2 separate regions of the Homo sapiens genome follow, and region 1 is linked to region 2. The links come from fine-mapping of genetic effects on gene expression. A gene starts in region 2. The other region holds a variant in brackets. All regions are shown on one strand. Distances are between the middles of the regions. Region 1 has its middle 27 kb from the start of B3GNT7. Region 2 holds the start of B3GNT7 (UDP-GlcNAc:betaGal beta-1,3-N-acetylglucosaminyltransferase 7).

The links. PIP is the estimated chance that this variant, and not a neighbour inherited with it, causes the effect.
Region 1: its variant is the best candidate, but not a certain one, in a credible set for the expression of B3GNT7 in atrial appendage (GTEx, PIP 0.87).

What each region holds. Positions count from the first base shown.
Region 1 is chr2:231,420,031-231,425,395 of GRCh38, forward strand. No RefSeq gene overlaps it. Among named protein-coding and RNA genes, the nearest start is that of B3GNT7, 27 kb to the left of the region's middle. RefSeq lists an enhancer at 373-873. The variant C/G (reference allele first, on the strand shown) is at 3,320.
Region 2 is chr2:231,392,638-231,398,002 of GRCh38, forward strand. B3GNT7 (UDP-GlcNAc:betaGal beta-1,3-N-acetylglucosaminyltransferase 7) reads left to right here and starts at 3,073. Exons shown (of 2, transcript NM_145236.3): 1 at 3,073-3,177; 2 at 5,094-5,365. The coding sequence starts at 3,167. RefSeq lists enhancers at 695-1,277, 1,278-1,859, 2,155-2,204, 4,473-5,365, 4,615-4,684 and 1 more and a silencer at 2,755-3,224.

The DNA.
Region 1 (5,365 bases), 27 kb after region 2:
CAGTGAGCCGAGATCGCGCCAGTGCACTCCAGCCTGGGCGACAGAGAGAGACTCTGTCTCAAAAAAAAAAAAAAAAAAAAAGATACAGAAGTGAAATAATAAAGGTAAAGGAATGAGATAGCCAGGAAAAGATAAGCCAACTTAAACAGAAAAGCTAGGAGGAGCCAGGTAACTCAGAATGGTAGGTGTGCTAGATTGAACAATGTGTGTCTAAAGTCACACACAAACAAAACAATTTCGACCTATGTGTTTTAAAATTAAAAAACAAGAAGTAGCTGGGCACAATGGCTCACACCTGTAATCCCAACACTTTGGGAGGCCCAGGTGGGAGGATTGTTTGAACCTGGGAGTTCAAGACCAGCCTGGGAGACCCATCTCTACAAAAAATTTAAAAGATGAGCCCTGCGTGGTGGTGCACACCTGTGGTTCCAGCTATCAGGGAAGCTGAGGCAGGAGGATCGCTTGAGCCCAGGAAGTCGAGGCTGTAGTGAGCCATGTTTGCACCACTACACTCCAGCCTGGATGACAGAGCAAGACCCTGTCTCAAAAAGGAAAAAAGAGAAACCAAAAGGACCTCCATAAAACAAGAAGTAGCAGGCAGTTGGGTGCAGTGGCTCACCCTGTAATCCCAGCACTTTGGGAAGCTCCCTTGAGCCCAGGAGTTCCAGACAAGCCTGGGCAACATCGTGAGACTCCATCTCTACAAAAAATTCAAAAATCAGCCAACGCGGTGGTGCACCCTTGTAGCCCTAGCTACTCAGCAGGTTGAGGCAGAAGGATCGCTTGAGCCCAGGAGTTCAAGGTTACAGTGAGCTATGATCGTGCCACTACACTCCAGCCTGAGCAATAGAGCAAGACCTTGTCTCAAAAAAAAAAAAAAAAAAAAAAAGTAGCAGACAAAGAGCATGAGCTCATAAAGGGTCATCTGGACTGAAATCTGGGGGTGAAGGAGAGGGCAGGGCCCCAGCACCCCAGCAGCCTGGACACACTCCTGCGCCAGGTGCAGCCCCCTTTTCAGGGGATGAATGGGGGACTTGTCTTCCTCTGCATTCCTTGACCAGCCTGAGTGCCAGCCTCACCTCACTGGCGCTGGAGGAAAAGCAGTGGCCTACGGAGACCCCAGTCCCAGGCTGGCTCCTGTTCTTGCTCCAGACAGAACTTTTGAAGCCCTTGGTGTTGCTAAAAGTGCTTGTTTCTTGGCCCCGCTCCTCTCACTCTGGGGACTAGGAGGGCTGAGGCTGTTATCCAGGTTGACAGGGACTGCTTTGTCCCTCGGTCAGGGCTCTGTCCTCACAACCTTTCCGGGCCTTCTCAGAGTCTGTGGGCCACCCATTTGGCCACCCACACTGCTGAGGGTCACCGGGCAGAAAATGCGGAGTTTCTGCATTCCATTTGAAGCTGCTTGGTGTTCCGTCTGAACAAACCATGGTGTATTTAACCAGCCTCTGTGGATGGACGGTGCTAGATCAGTCCTTGTTAATGTAACATCACTCCCATCCCCTTCTACATCTCCCTGCATTTCCAGAGCCCCTTTCCAGTATGTCCTAGGCTGAATTCTGCCCATGAAGGAAGCAGAAGCCATTGGTCTCCAGCAGCTACTATGGTTAGGCAGCAAAACTCATGGCAGACTCCTTTCCTCGGCTTCTGGGCATCACCCTGCATGACCCCCACTGCAGTGCTATAAGCAGCTGAGATCCAGCCAGACACAGTGGCTCACACCTGTAATCCCAGCACTTTGGGAGGCCAAGGCTGGCGGATCACTTGAGGTCAGGAGTTCGAGACCAGCCTGAGATCCTTGGTGACAGCTTCCGGCAGCTCCAGGTGTCCCCCTGGGCATCATGTGCTTTGGCCCTGCCAGCACCGAGGATCACTGGTGATGACTTCCCTGCCATCTCCTAACTTCTAGAACTTTCCTGGCCTTTCCTCTCCCAGCCCTTCCAATGCTTCTCTTTCTGCTCAAAATACCTAGAGTGGCTTCTGTTTTCTTGATTGAACCCTGACTGCTACAAACAATACCCTCGCATATCCTGCACATGCCAGGAACACATGCCAGTCTATCTGTAGTATAAGTTACTAGAAGTCAAATTTTCAGGTCAGTTTCAAGGTTGCTGGTGTATTAGTTTGCTAGGGCTGCCATAACAGAGAACCACAGACTGGGTGGCTTAAACAACGGAAAATTTATTTCCTCACAGTCTGAGGCTGAAGTCTGAGATTAAGATGTTGGCAGAGTTAGTTTCACTCTATGGGTGTATGTGTCCAAATTTCCTCTTCTTATAAAGACATCTGTCATATTGGATTAGGGCCCCACCCTAACAATCTCATTTTAACTTAATTCCCTCTTTAAAGACCCTGTCTCCAAATACAGTCACATTCTGAGGTACTGGAGGTTAGGACTTCAGCGTGTGAATTTTGAGGGGATGCAACTCAGTCCATAACAGATAACTAGCTATTCCCAACTCACCCTCCCTGGCAATTGTCCCAAACAGCAGGTACATGAAATGTGTCAGCAAACCTGGTGATCATCACCAATCTAACAGGTAAGAAAATGCACATAGTGTTGTTTTAATTTGCATTTCTCCTACTCTGAGTGACATTAACATCTTTTCATGTGTTTGAATCATTCATATTTCCTTTCCTGAGAAAGATTTGTACAGGACAATTTTCTAGGTGACCTTAAACCAGCCCGGTTCTCCCATCTTTCTTGCTTGTAGTTCTGAAAATTAACTGTAGAATGTGCTAGAAATGCAACATCTTGAGATAAGGGGGAGCTGGCCAGAACTGCTCAGGCTCTGTTCCAGTTCCGCCTTAGAAACAGGGTGGCTCATGCCTGTAATCCCAGCACTTTGGGAGGCCAAGGCAGGCAGATCACCTGAGGTCAGGAGTTCAAGACTAGCCTGGCCAACATGGTGAAACCCCGTCTCTACCAAAAATACAAAAAATTAGCCAGGCATGGTGGCAGGCACCTGTAATCCCAGCTACTCGGGAGGCTGAGGCAGAAGAATTGCTTAAACCCGGGAGGTGGAGGTTGCGGTGAGCCAAGATCGCACCACTGTACTCCAGCCTGGGCAACAAGAGCGAGACTCTGTCTCAAAAAAAAAAAAAAGAAAAGAAACAGGGTGTCCTTCAACACTGTAGCTCAGCCACTCACAGAGCATAAAGCTCAGGGCAGGCTGCTTTTCAGGGTTCTTCAGCCATGGTGCAGGTGGGACGCATGAAGTCAAGATTCCATCAGCCCTGGGCAGCTGGCCTGAGCCTGGGGAACTGGCTCTGAATGAATCCTAGGCCTCTGTTGCCCCTTGCTGCCAATCTGTAATAAATC[C/G]TCATCGTGTAACTGGGTACATGTGAGTGTGTTCCGTCTCACCAGATGCCGACAAGTTGGTAAGCCGCGCACGGTGAGCCTGCTTCGCGGTTGGTTCATATCCTTTGCCTATTTTTCTATTGGCTTATTTGTCTTTGTCTTTGTCTTTTTTTCCATTGCGACACCTACTAAAATGGGATTGACTTTTACTTATTTGTTGAAGGGGTTCATTAAAGACATTTATCTGATATGCACTGAAAATATTTTTCCATTTGTCATCTATCTTTTGACTTTGTTCATAATTTTTCTGTGATACAGTGATATTTTAATGTAAATTTTCCATCTTTTCCTTAATGGCTTCTAGGTACTATGTCGTTATTCTTAGAAAGTCCTCTCCTACCCAAAAAGCACTGAAAATTTAAAAATTAAAAACAAGACTGGACGTGGTGGCTCACACCCGTAATCCCAGCAATTTGGGAGGCCGAGGCGGGTGGGTCACGAGGTCAGGAGTTTGAGACCAGCCTGGCCAGCATGATGAAACCCCGTCTCTACTAAAAATACAAAAATCAGCCGGGCCTGGTGGCGCATGCCTGTAATCCCAGCTACTAGGGAGGCTGAGGCAGGAGAATTGCTTGATCCTGGGGGGCGGAGGTTGCAGTGAGCCGAGATCGCGCCATTGCACTCCAGCTCTGGGCAACAGAGCAAGACTCTGTCTTGGAAAAAATAAATAAATAAAAATTAAATTTAAAAAGCTCTTTCCAACTTTAAGTTATAAAATAAATTTTCCATATTTTCTTCTAGTACTGTCATATTTCACTTTTTACATTAACATATTTGATCCACCTGAAATGTATTTTAATATAAGACATGAGGTATTGCTGGGCGTGGTGGCTCATGCCTGTAATCTCAGCACTTTTGGAGGCCAAGGCAGGATGATCACTTGATTCCAGGAGCACAAGATCAGCCTGAGCAACATAGTGACACCCCATTTCTACAAATAATAGTCTAAAAATATTAGCCAGGAGTGGTGGTGTGTGCCTGTGGTCCTAGCTACTCAGGAGACTGACAGGAGTATCACCTGAACCTGGGAGCAGTGAGCCATGATCACACCACTGCACTCCAGCCTGGGTGACAGAGTGAGACCCTGTCTCAAAAAAAAAAGATATTAATATAATTTTTCCTCTAGGCAGATGGTATTCCAGTTACGCCAACACCAGTGGAAGTGGCAGATTTATTACGTACTGAATTATCGTGTGGACTTGGGTCTAATTCCATGTTTCCTGGGCACATTTGAGACCTCTGCACTTCTCAAACCTCTGACTCTGACATCTCCCCTCTTTTCATCAGATGACCTTGCCTTTTAATTCAAAGAGCACGTGGAAGGACTCGTGGGAAGAGCACCTCCAGTTTAAAAACAAAAGACCCATCCCCTGCTTGCCTCCACCTGAGTCTCAGAGCCCACCCTTCCCAAGCGCTTAGGACCACTGTCTCTCTTCTGTGGTCAACATCCATTGCTCCACTAATCCTTCTCCATAGCCTTTTCTTTTCTTTTCTTTTCTTTTTTTTTTTTTTTTTTGAGACGGGGTCTCATTCTGTTGCCCAGGCTGGAGTGCAGTGGTGCCATCTCGGCTCACTGCAACCTTTGCCTCCCAGGTTCAAGCGATTCTCACACCTCAGCCTCCCAAGTAGCTGAGATTACAGGCACCTGCCAACACGCCCAGCTAATTTTTGTATTTTTAGTAGAGACAGGGTTTCACCATGCTGGCCTCGAACTCCTGACCTTATGTGACCCGCCCACCTCAGCCCCCCAAAGTGCTGGGATTGCAGGCCTGAGCCACCGCGCCTAGCTCCATGGCCTTTTAAATGGGCTCAAGACTTTTACGTGTTGAAAACAAACAAAAACAAGAAACTCCTTCAACCCCATGAACCTCTTCAGCTGTGTCCCTACTCTCATCCCACAGCCACATTCCCTGAGGGAATTGTAGTCTCTGCAGTCCCGTTCCCCAGTTACTCCTCAAGACCCTGCACCCCGCTCATCCAGAGTCAGAAATAGTGGAGAGTTCTTGG
Region 2 (5,365 bases):
CTCTCGCCCCACGATGGCCACCTCTCTGCAAGGCACGCAAGACTCCTCACCTTCTGCTTTGGGGGTCCCTCTGACCCAAGTTGGCCCCCACCTTGTCCAGTCAAGCCACTGACCCAGTGTGTTTTCTGGCCAGTCAGATACTCCCACCCTTGGGTCTCTGCAGCCCTCGCCTCTGGGCAAAGGCCTGTGCTGGGGTTACCAGCAGGGTCGGATTCCAACCTATTCTGGAAGGTTGAAGGGGTGGGATATAAAAGAAAGTGGAGGTGGAGGTAGGGATGGGCTGAGGGGCCAAAAGATGTACTGGGGAAGGGGGCATTTCTTGGGGTCCTCCAACGTCCTGGCTCACGAGCTTCCCCCTCCAAGGGAGCAACCTGAGGTGCACAGAGTGGCCTTGTGACAAGGACACAGAACCCACCTCCACCTTGGCTTGGGACTCCTGCAGCCTATGCAGCCAGCTCATCCGTCACCCACCCTCTTCTCCTGGTATCTGCCACTCTGGAACTTCCCTCTACCTCTGGGCTCTGCCTTCAGCCAGGGTTGGGGACAGCAGGTAGGCAGATCCCATCGCAGACAGGCCTGCCTTCCTCAGGGCCTCGCTTAAATCCACAGGAATCTGCTGGGGCTCTGCCCTCTGGCTGGGGCAGGTGGAACTGGCCAGATTGGCGGTGGGGGGACCACTGTGCTTGCCATAGGGACTGGCCCAGCTGCCCCACAGGGGAGCACATTGGAGTAACAGGGGAGGCTGACCCGAGCCTGGCCCGGCTCCACACTCCCCACCCCCACCCCACCATCAGGGACTCGCATTTAATTGTCATTCATTTCCCCTCTCTGAATTCAAACTAGGCACAGATCAAATGATTCCATGATGACAAACTGCCTGTCTCAACTGACCAGATTCCACTGGCAAACACTCCGCTGACCTTGGGCAGCTCCCTCTGCTCCCACCTCCTCTGGCCCTTGTGCTTCTGGGGCTTTGTGGAGTAGCTGGACATCAATGATAACACTAACAGTAGCCGGCCTGCCACCAAGTTCTTTACATAGGGGATGCCTATGTCTGTGCTTCATTGGCGTCATCTCACAAGGCCCTGAGCTGGCAGGAAATTGAGGTCTCAAGGGGAAAAGCCACCTGCCCCCAGTGACAACCAGGAAGTGCAAGACTCTGACCCAACGCCCATGCCTGCCATCCCCAAACATGGGCTCAAAACCCCCTTCCCAGGGACGGCTGTGTCCACCCCTCAGCAGGAGGAGGAGACCCCACAGCACCGGGTGAGAGGTCAGTGCTGAAGCCAGGGAGGCAGCTCTCAGCAGGGCACCTGTGTGGAGCCAGGGAAGCCAGGGCCACACTTGCAGGGTGAAGTGGGGAACTCGGAAGGCTGGGCAGTGGAGCAAAATGCTTGGTGCCCTGCGGGAACCGGTGGCCAAGGCTACACTGGGATGAAGGGAGCCGTGGAGCTGCAGAATCTGCGGGTGGCCCTCAGTGGCAGGCAGCCAGGCCAACAGGGGCTTTGGGCTGCAGGTCAGCCCCTCCCCTGCTCTGGAACTTTTGGAGGGCCATTACAAAGGACATCAGCCCCAAGATACTCCTCTGAAATTCTGCCTGAAAGGCCCTTCACATTCCCTAATTGGCACTTACAACATTCCAGAACATTCTATGGTACCTTAAGTTTCTCCTCCCCCTCCAAAGGGCCCTTGAACCTTAAGGATAGGGCAGAAGGGGCTCCTCACCCTGGCCTCGAGGGCTTAAGATCCAGCTGAGGACTCCTAGCCTCCCTGTGTGCTGGGCAGGAAAGTAGCTCCATGTCACTGCTGTCCCTGGGAAAGGAAAAAAGGTTGAGGAAGGGCTCAGAGCCAGCCTTCAGACCAGGCAGGAAGGGTTCAGAGCCAGCCTTCAGGCCATGCAGGCCTCCTGGATGTGCTTACTAACTCTGGGCTCGCTGTTCTCTGAGCTGGCTGGGAGTTCCCCTCTGCACCCCCGTTTCCTCCCCTGTAAGGTGGGAATAATAGCGTATGTCTCTAGGATTAAGTGAGCCAGTCATGCATGGGCCGAGAACCAGGTTTGGCATATTGTAGCTGCTCAGTGGACGTTAGCTGTTATGATTGGACCACAACGTGCTTCCGTTTCAATTCTGTGGGCCTTTTGGAGGTCCTGCTGGATGCTAAGCACCGAAACCTCAACCCGGAACAAGACCAGAACAACCTGAGCAACAACAGGACCAGCGATGGCTCTCCCTGCTGGAGGATTCTGGAAGTCACCTGGCTGGACCAAGCCCTCTCCGTGTTCTCTGTCAGCCCACTCCCCAGAGCCGCTAGGCCTGATGTGCACAAGCAGACTAATAAAGGCTTGAGGACAAAAAGGGTTTTGAGTGATAAGTGAAAAAAGAAAGGAGATAGGGCTGGGCCAACAGGCCTTCCCTTGGTGGTGGGGAGCCCTCAGAGGTGGGAGGAACCCCAGAGGTGAAGAGAGGGACATGGTGGGGGCACAAAAAAAGCTTCCAGAGCCACAGGCCTGGGCGAGTCCTGACATGGAGCCCAGTCTCATACGGCCTCTTTCCCTAGTGGCTGGCTTTGCTCCTGGCCCTAGGTAGCCCAACAGCTGGGCAAGGGGTCCGTCTGGTCAGGGGAAAGGTGCAGGGGCAGAAGGTAGCAGAGGGAGAAAAGGACACCCTGTCTGCCTCTGGCCCCAAAGACAAGTCCGAATGGGGCCAGAGGGAAATGGCTGGGCCTTGGGGTGCCCCAGGGTCTTGGAGGGGACCGGGTGTTCAGGTTTCGCACAAGTACAGGAGGGACCGGCGACCGCCCTCCCCCCGCCCCGGGAGGCTCCGCCAGGGACAGGCGTCCCCGGGATTGGAGGTGACCCCCGTGGGTTCCGAAGCCCCGCCTCGGCCATGCACTGTCTACTAGGCGCGCTTGGGGAGCCTAGGGGCCGTCTCGGAGAAATGGGGTGGTCCCCGCCAGGCGGCGGCGGGGCGGGCCCTGGGCGCCGAAGGGGTTAAGGCACCTGGGCCACCGCCCCTGCCGGCCCCTCCTCCCGCGGCCGGGAAGAGGAAAGTCGCGGCGGGGGCGCGGCCCGGTCTCCGTCCCCACCCGCCCGCCGTCCCGCCGGCCCGAGCCGTGGCGCCCAGAGCTGCGAGCCGCTCGCCCCTCCGCCGCTCCGGCCCGGGCCGCCATGTCGCTGTGGTGAGTGGGGCTGGGGGCCGTCGGGGGCCTGGGCGGGGGCGTGGGCCCGGGGCTCCCCCTCCTCCGTGGCCACAGACGGGCGCCGGGACTCCCGGGATAGGAGATGCCCCCGCGCGCGCCGCGCCGGCCTCAGTTTCCCGGGGGCGGATGGGCGGGCGGGCGCGGCGGCGGCGGCGGGAGATGTTCGCGGTACGCGGCCCCGGACCCGTGGGGGACGTCGAGGGGTCTCGGGGCGCCGCGCTCAGCTCCCCGGCCCCGCGGCCCTGGACACCGCTCCAGGACCCTGGCGGCTGGGACCCCAGGTCTTGCCGGCAGCTGGGTCCCCTCTCCCTTCCAGACCCCTGAGGGCCCCCTGCGTCCGGGCCACTCTCCTCCTCTCGGGGCTTCCTTCCGCGGGACCTCGGACCGCCGCCCGCCCGGCCCCTCTCCGCCCCTCCCGGGCTTTCCCTACGAATGGAGCGGACCCGGCAGGTGGAGCGCCCGCAGCCCAGGGCCTCGCCGCCTTCCCGGTGCACCCCCCGACCTCCCCCGTCCCGGCCTCGGTGGGCGGCTTCCCTGGAACCCCTAGGGCTGGCAGGGCCGGATCCGGAGCCCTCCGTTTCCTCCCCGGAGAGCTGGACCTTGGGTCACACCCCCCAGCCTGCACCTAAGGTGCCCCTGTCTTCCTCCAACCACATGCCCCAGCAACCTGGGGACCCTATGGGGAAAATGTCGCTCTATGGGGCTCAGCCTGCATTCACCCTGGGGCCTGGACCTGCAACCGGACCAGCCCTCAGGGCAACCCAGGCGTCTCCACGGGCTGCCTGTCTCTCCTGGCACCCTGCTCCTCCCCCTTGGAGGTCAGCGCCATCTCTCTGCTAGGCTGGCCCTGGAAGGCCACTCTGCTGTCCCCAGAGCTCTCAGCCCCCAGGTCTCCACTGGGGAGGGTGGGGCAGGTGTCCTGGCAGCCCCCGGAGGGTGAGATGAAGAGAGGAGGTCCTTCAGGACAGGGGCTCAGGCCCCAGGGCTTGGGACGACCAGCACTCCTGGCAGAGAGCTCTAATTTCTGCTTCCGAAATGGGTGTGGACCGGGGTTGGGGTGGGGGGGTCTCTGGGCAAGAAGGGTCCCTCAAGGGCTGGAGCTGCAAATGTGCCCCCTCCCAGGGAGTAGAGCTGTAGCCTCATGTCTTCTAATGGGGTGTTATGAGCTGGGGATGTTAAGGTAGGGGTGAGGGGCAGTGCCATGCTAGAGGTGCTCACTGCATCCTTGGGCCTCCATCAACCATGAGGGCTGCTCTTTGTTGGGTGAGACAGACTGGAGAAGGGGGAGGAGGGCCAGTCTTCCTCAGGTCCCAAGCTCGAGCCACTCTCCAATGTGCCCCACATGTGATGGAGCTCCCGGGCGGCACAGAGGATCAGAGGGTGCCCTCTCAATGACTCTGGCTCTGAGTCACCTAATGATACCGATACCTACTGCTGTGGGTAGGTACACCGCAGGGAAATGAAAGGCATTGGGGTTCCAGGCGTGGGGAACAGGGCAGAGGTTTCCACCTGAGGCCCTCCTGTTAAGGTGACAGCATTCCCCTAACTGTGCACCCGCTGCCTGGTACTTTATATAGCACTCCAATCCTGTGTTTTAGCCCCATTTGGGGGAAGAAGAAATCGTGGCTCAGAGTGGTTGTAAACCACTCATTCAGCTTGTAAGCGTCAGGGCCTGATTCCACAGTGCTCCTTGAGGAGAGGGCAGGGTGGGAGAAAGAAAGGGCAGGGTGGGAGAGGAAGCGGGACCCTACCCTGACAGCTTAGGGACTCCGGGACTGAGCCTGTGCCCAGGTCCACTTGCCCGTCTGGGACCACCCAGCCTCCCAAGGGGGGCGCCAGGAGAGCCCTGGGCTCATCTTTTCTCTCTCCTCTGTACTGTCCGCTCTCCCCCACAGGAAGAAAACCGTCTACCGGAGTCTGTGCCTGGCCCTGGCCCTGCTCGTGGCCGTGACGGTGTTCCAACGCAGTCTCACCCCTGGTCAGTTTCTGCAGGAGCCTCCGCCACCCACCCTGGAGCCACAGAAGGCCCAGAAGCCAAATGGACAGCTGGTGAACCCCAACAACTTCTGGAAGAACCCGAAAGATGTGGCTGCGCCCACGCCCATGGCCTCTCAGGGGCCCCAGGCCTGGGACGTGACCACCACTAACTGCTCAGCCAATATCAACT